2 separate regions of the Homo sapiens genome follow, and region 1 is linked to region 2. The links come from fine-mapping of genetic effects on plasma protein levels. Region 2 holds a variant in brackets. A gene starts in the other region. All regions are shown on their forward strands.

Region 1 (2,898 bases), not on the chromosome of region 2:
AGTGGGGAGCAGCGTGGAATGGTCCAGAGTTCCTGGAGGTGGTCAGGGACAAGACAGCTGGGCCTCTCTGCTGTCATCCCTAGGAGCAGTCAGCAATTACACAGACACAGCTGCTGTGTGATTCAAAGACACATATGCACGTAGACTCAAATACAGAGTTGCTTGAATGTGTTCACAAATATACACACCCGGCCGGGCGCGGTGGCTCACGTTTGTAATCCCAGCCCTTTTGGAGGCCAAGGCGGGTGGATCACAAGGTCAAGAGATCGAGACCATCCTGGCCAAAATAGTGGTGCGCACCTGTAATCCCAGCTACTCTGGAGGCTGAGGCAGGAGAATCGCTTGAACTCAGGAGGCGGAGGTTGCAGTGAGCCGAGATTGAGCCACTGCACTCCAGAGCCAGACTCTGTCTCAAAAAAAAAAAAAAGACAAAAACCCCCCACAAATATACACACCCATGCACCACCACCCCTACCCATACACCACACGCACACTTAAATTCAGAGGGCAAATCCCGGTTCCTCCCTTCATAGCTATGTGTCCCCAAGTTACTTAATCTCTTTGTATCTTAATTTCCTTATTTCCGATCTGTAAAAATGAGAATAATGGTATTCACCTCAATGAGTTGTTGTGAAGATTAAATGAGATAAAATGGTAAAGAGCTTACAACAGTGGCAACACATGCAGAGAGACGCACATGTTTTCATACTCATTTCCCAAGCCCTGCCCAGTACTGCCACTGGCACTGGTGGTGAGCCTGGCAGCAGTACAAGGTTGGAGTCCCTTCATCCCTTTGAGCCTTGGTTTTCTCATCTGTGAAATGGGAATAATAATATCTAGCCGGCGGGGCTGTTTGGAGGAACTAAAGAGGCCCAGCATGGAAAGCTCCTAACCTAACTCTGGCCCACAAAAGTCTCCCTACGTTTTAGCTGTCACTGTCCCTGTGAGGAAGAACAGATCCAAGAACAGGTGCAGGGATGGGCTGCACCACAGCAAAATCTGGACAGGCCCGACCCCCATCTCCTCCCAGGCTGGAGCGGGGCCCTGTAAGGACAGAGCCCAAGGCCACTAGGTGTCAGGCCTGTTGGAGCCAAGTCCGGCCAGCAGTCTGGGGTGGGGCTGGGGGCAGGGCTGGTCGGATGGCCGTGGGTGGAAGGAAAAGAGGAAAACCAGCTCAGTGGAAATTGTCCTGCGGTTGGCTCAGGCGCCCACGACACTGTATTTATAGAGAGCTCCTTGCAGCTCTTAATTCCTCGCAGTCGAGTTAACCCTTTCTGGGCTGTGGTGCCAGCATGGTGTGGAGGAAGAACCCAAGACTGGGGTTGGACAGCAGGATTCCAGCCCTGTTCTGCCGCCAGTCGATGACCAGTCAGTCACCTATCCCCTCTCGCAGAAAGGAAGATTCGGCTCTTGGAAGTGTGGGAACGGGGTGGGGGATGGGCAGCGCCCTGCTCCGGGAGCCGAGGGTTTTCCCCGCCAGGGTCAGGCCTGGGGGCGGGGCGGGGCGGGGGCGGGGGCCAGGCCGTGTGCTCTGCCCAGCGGGCTGGCTCAGGCCTCGGTCAGCAGCCGCCACCGCGGGGCCAATCCGGCCTCAGGGACGCACCGGAGCCGCCTTTCCGGGCCTCAGGCGGATTCTCCGGCGCGGCCCGCCCCGCCCCTCGGACTCCCCGGGCCGCCCCCGGCCCCCATTCGGGCCGGGCCTCGCTGCGGCGGCGACTGAGCCAGGCTGGGCCGCGTCCCTGAGTCCCAGAGTCGGCGCGGCGCGGTGAGTGCTGGCGTGGCGCGGGCGGCGCGGGGTGGGGCGGCCTTTGTCTGCTGCGGGCCGGGCCTGGATCCCGCGGAGGTCCGCACGTTCCCGCTCAGGGCTGCAGGAGCTGAGCAGGGCGCCTTCCCTCCGGGCTCCTGCTCCCCTGCCCTCCCCCAGGTCCGGGCGGCCCCCCTCGCACAGGAGTCCCGGGAACCGCGGGCGCCCCTCCTGCCCTGGGCTGTGGGGCCCGCGGAGAGCTGGGGGCTCCCGGATCCTACCCCGCCCCCCTTTCCTCGGGTTGAGAGGGGCCCGGGCGCCGTCGGACCTGCAGACCCCGGAAGCTGCGGACCGGGCCGGGTGGGTGAATGCGCTTTTGCAGGCCCCGGGTCTGGAGCGGGCATGGGGGCAGATCTGTCCCGTGTTGAAGCTTAACGAAGCCACCGGCCGGCGCTGGGAGGTTAGCGGGGTCTCGGGTCCTGCAGAGGAAAACGCCCAGCTCCGGGAGGGGAGCGGCGGGGAGGGAAGGCGAGTGGTTAGGCGTGTCCACTCTGCAGGGCCCAGCAGGGCGAAGGTGTGGGCGACTGGTGCACTTCCACAGGCAGCCGTGGGCAGCATGAGGGGTCAGATTCCGGGAAGGACAGGTAGAGACGGCTGGCAGGGGCCACGGGGTGAATAGGTGTTGGGGGTGGGGAGGGAATTGGGATGGGCAGTTTGGGCTTGGGAAGCCTCAGGGAGGTGGGGGGTGAGGTGGGATGGAGAGGAGATGCGGGCGACGGTGGAGGGAGGTGGGGACCCCGAGTGGGGGCACACTAGAAGGGAGGGGATTGAATTCCAGCGCCCAGGGCCCTCCCTGCGACCGTTTAGCTAGCGAATTGGCAGGTTTGGCAGCCTAAGGCAGGGGATTTATTTCTAAGCCAAACCTGCTCTAATGAGAAAAGCGTGATAGATGACTCAGATATGGGATCTATCACTGAGGGAAAACATTAAGCAAATAGTAAAGCAAAAAAGATTTGTGTGTGTGTGTGTGTGTGTGTGTGTGTGTGTGTGTGTGTGGCGGGTGGGGGGGTGTTAGTTGTCTTAATTTAGAAAAACGATTTACCTTCAAATTGGATGTGGATAATTGTAAATGAGTCTGATCTCTTCATTAAAGC
Region 2 (2,898 bases):
CCCTCAGTTCCTGGGAAGCATCCGTGGGAGTGGGGAGGAAAATGGCTCTCATCCTTGAGAGAGGTGTAGCCATCAAGGGTGCACCCCAGTGCCAGAGAGCCAGAGCCTGAGGATCCCTTGTTCTTGAGACAGAGGCGTTGCGCATGAGGTAGCAGGAAGAGCTGGGTCAGGCAGAGGTGGCTGGGCCGCGCAGTCAGACCTGGGAGAGTGCAGGGAAGGAGAATGTTGCCCCTCTTTATCCTAACACACCCCATCCTCTCCCCACGTGGCTGGACCTCAGCATCCAGAATTACACCCCCAAGGTGGGCGAGTATGCCACATACGAGGCCATTCGCAAGGCGTTCCGCGTGTGGGAGAGTGCCACACCACTGCGCTTCCGCGAGGTGCCCTATGCCTACATCCGTGAGGGCCATGAGAAGCAGGCCGACATCATGATCTTCTTTGCCGAGGGCTTCCATGGCGACAGCACGCCCTTCGATGGTGAGGGCGGCTTCCTGGCCCATGCCTACTTCCCAGGCCCCAACATTGGAGGAGACACCCACTTTGACTCTGCCGAGCCTTGGACTGTCAGGAATGAGGATCTGAATGGTGAGCCAAGTATCCCTGGGACTTACTCTGGAAAAAGCCAACAGTCATTTGTAGGGGTGGTTCCCCTCCCTCCTTCCAAAATCTCCGGGCTAGAAGGGACCACAGAGACCTTCTGATCTAACTTCTGACAAAAGCAGGAGTCCTGTTTGAGCTATTTACATCTGGTCCCCCCTCTCACCCACTGACTGGCTTTCCAGTCAAAGACTTCAAAGCATCCTTATTGCCCACTTTTCCAGACCGATGTCATGTCTCGCTCCCGGGAGAAACTGGGGACTAGAGAGAGCCTTGGCTTCCCTTACCACAGGTCTTCCCGGGATCGGGGTCCTGCTTCCAAGCACTCTCTCACCTCCACCCAGAGGAGCTTGCTGACTGGCTTTGTGCTTAAATACCAGATAAAAAGCTAGACCTCAGAATTTGGCCACTTTGGATTGAAAACATGGGCAGCAGGCTTGGAGGTGAAACCAAAGCTGCTGGTGGGGAAGCAGGGAGGCTGAGGGAAGGGACTCAGGCTGCTATCGTCACTGTCCCCATCCTTCCAGGAAATGACATCTTCCTGGTGGCTGTGCACGAGCTGGGCCATGCCCTGGGGCTCGAGCATTCCAGTGACCCCTCGGCCATCATGGCACCCTTTTACCAGTGGATGGACACGGAGAATTTTGTGCTGCCC[G/A]ATGATGACCGCCGGGGCATCCAGCAACTTTATGGCGAGTAGTCTACACCCACGCCTGCTCCCTCCTCTGCTGCTTGTTCCCTCCTGGTCTACGCATTTCCCCTCTTTTATGCCTTGCAGTCTCCGCACCGCCCCCTGCCAACCTGCCCCTGCCTCTATCAGCTCCACTTTTGAGCCCATCTTTTGTGTCGCCTCCCAGTTGGTTGCTTCAGCCTCCCCTAGAAGCCCATCCACACCTTTCCAAGGGTATTGTCTGCCCATCTGTCTGTCCTTCCGTCCCCGCCTCCTCCTAAGTCTGAAATGCCCCTCGTGTTTTCTGCCCCAGGGGGTGAGTCAGGGTTCCCCACCAAGATGCCCCCTCAACCCAGGACTACCTCCCGGCCTTCTGTTCCTGATAAACCCAAAAACCCCACCTATGGGCCCAACATCTGTGACGGGAACTTTGACACCGTGGCCATGCTCCGAGGGGAGATGTTTGTCTTCAAGGTGAGAAGAAGTGGGCTGGTTTGAAAGACAAAAGGGCCCTATGGGCTGGGCATGGTGGCTCATGCCTGTAATCCTAGCACTTTGAGAGGCCAAGGCAGGTGGATCACCTGAGGTCTGGAGTTCGAGAGCAGGCTGGCCAACATAGTGAAACCCCGTCTCTACTAAAAATACAAAAAATTAGCCAAGTGTGGTGGTGGGCGCCTATGATCCCAGCTACCTGGGAGGCTGAGGCAGGAGAATCACGTGAACCTGGGAGGTGGAGGTTGCAGTGAGCCGAGATAGGGCCATTGCACTCCAGCCTGGACAACAGTGTGAGACTCCATCTCAAAAAAAAAAAAGGCGGGGGGGTACTCTGTGGTAGGGCGGCTGGGTGGAAGTGACAACAGCTGGACTAAAAACTAAAACTGAGGAACAAACAGCAGTGCGGGAGCTTTGGGGACTGAACCAGAGACCTAGGCCGCAAGACATAATGGACTTTTCCTGCATTGACCGGCTTCCAGGAGCGCTGGTTCTGGCGGGTGAGGAATAACCAAGTGATGGATGGATACCCAATGCCCATTGGCCAGTTCTGGCGGGGCCTGCCTGCGTCCATCAACACTGCCTACGAGAGGAAGGATGGCAAATTCGTCTTCTTCAAAGGTAACCAGGCACTCCACTTTAGTCTTTGGGAGTGAGGCGGGTCTCCCTAGAGGAGCTGATTTCCTCTAAAGTCCCTAGAGCCTAAGTTGAACCCAGACGTTGCCCTCCTGTCCTCCCCAGGAGACAAGCATTGGGTGTTTGATGAGGCGTCCCTGGAACCTGGCTACCCCAAGCACATTAAGGAGCTGGGCCGAGGGCTGCCTACCGACAAGATTGATGCTGCTCTCTTCTGGATGCCCAATGGAAAGACCTACTTCTTCCGTGGAAACAAGTAAGACCTCAACCCCTTAACCCCAGGCCTCCCTCAGAAACCACCACCACCCCAAATTCCCTCAGTTCTGGAGAAAGACCCACTTTACCCCCAACATGCTTCCCTGGAGAAGGAGCTGGCTGAGCCTCTGCTGTTGCCTAGAAATGGGCAGCCTCCTTTGGGCACCGTGTGAGTGGGATGTGACCGGGTCATTCCAGACCTGGTCATTTGGCGCCTCCTGCCCCCAGCACTGCGCCTCCACCCCAGC

Alleles and levels. Alleles are on the strand shown, and positions count from the first base shown. The strength of an association depends on the size of the effect and on how common the allele is.
In carriers of allele G in region 2, the plasma level of the protein whose gene starts at base 1,688 in region 1 tends to be lower than with A alone (weak association).

Evidence for each region. PIP is the chance, under the fine-mapping model, that this variant and not a neighbour inherited with it causes the effect. Protein levels are from antibody-based Olink assays in UK Biobank. Linkage for the fine-mapping came from a reference panel and not from the study's own genotypes, which makes the PIPs less certain.
Region 1: it holds the start of CD276, and the variant in region 2 is fine-mapped to the plasma level of the CD276 protein (UK Biobank, PIP above 0.99).

The regions. Positions count from the first base shown.
Region 1 is chr15:73,682,696-73,685,593 of GRCh38, forward strand. CD276 (CD276 molecule) reads left to right here and starts at 1,688. Exons shown (of 10, transcript NM_001024736.2): 1 at 1,688-1,765. RefSeq lists enhancers at 577-1,085, 2,103-2,609 and silencers at 1,469-1,518, 1,639-1,768, 1,779-1,908, 2,069-2,118.
Region 2 is chr14:22,842,130-22,845,027 of GRCh38, forward strand. It overlaps MMP14 (matrix metallopeptidase 14), which reads left to right. Exons shown (of 10, transcript NM_004995.4): 4 at 281-588; 5 at 1,128-1,289; 6 at 1,581-1,741; 7 at 2,242-2,380; 8 at 2,501-2,651. Among named protein-coding and RNA genes, the nearest start is that of MMP14, 7.0 kb to the left of the region's middle. RefSeq lists enhancers at 862-1,362, 1,363-1,863. The variant G/A (reference allele first, on the strand shown) is at 1,256.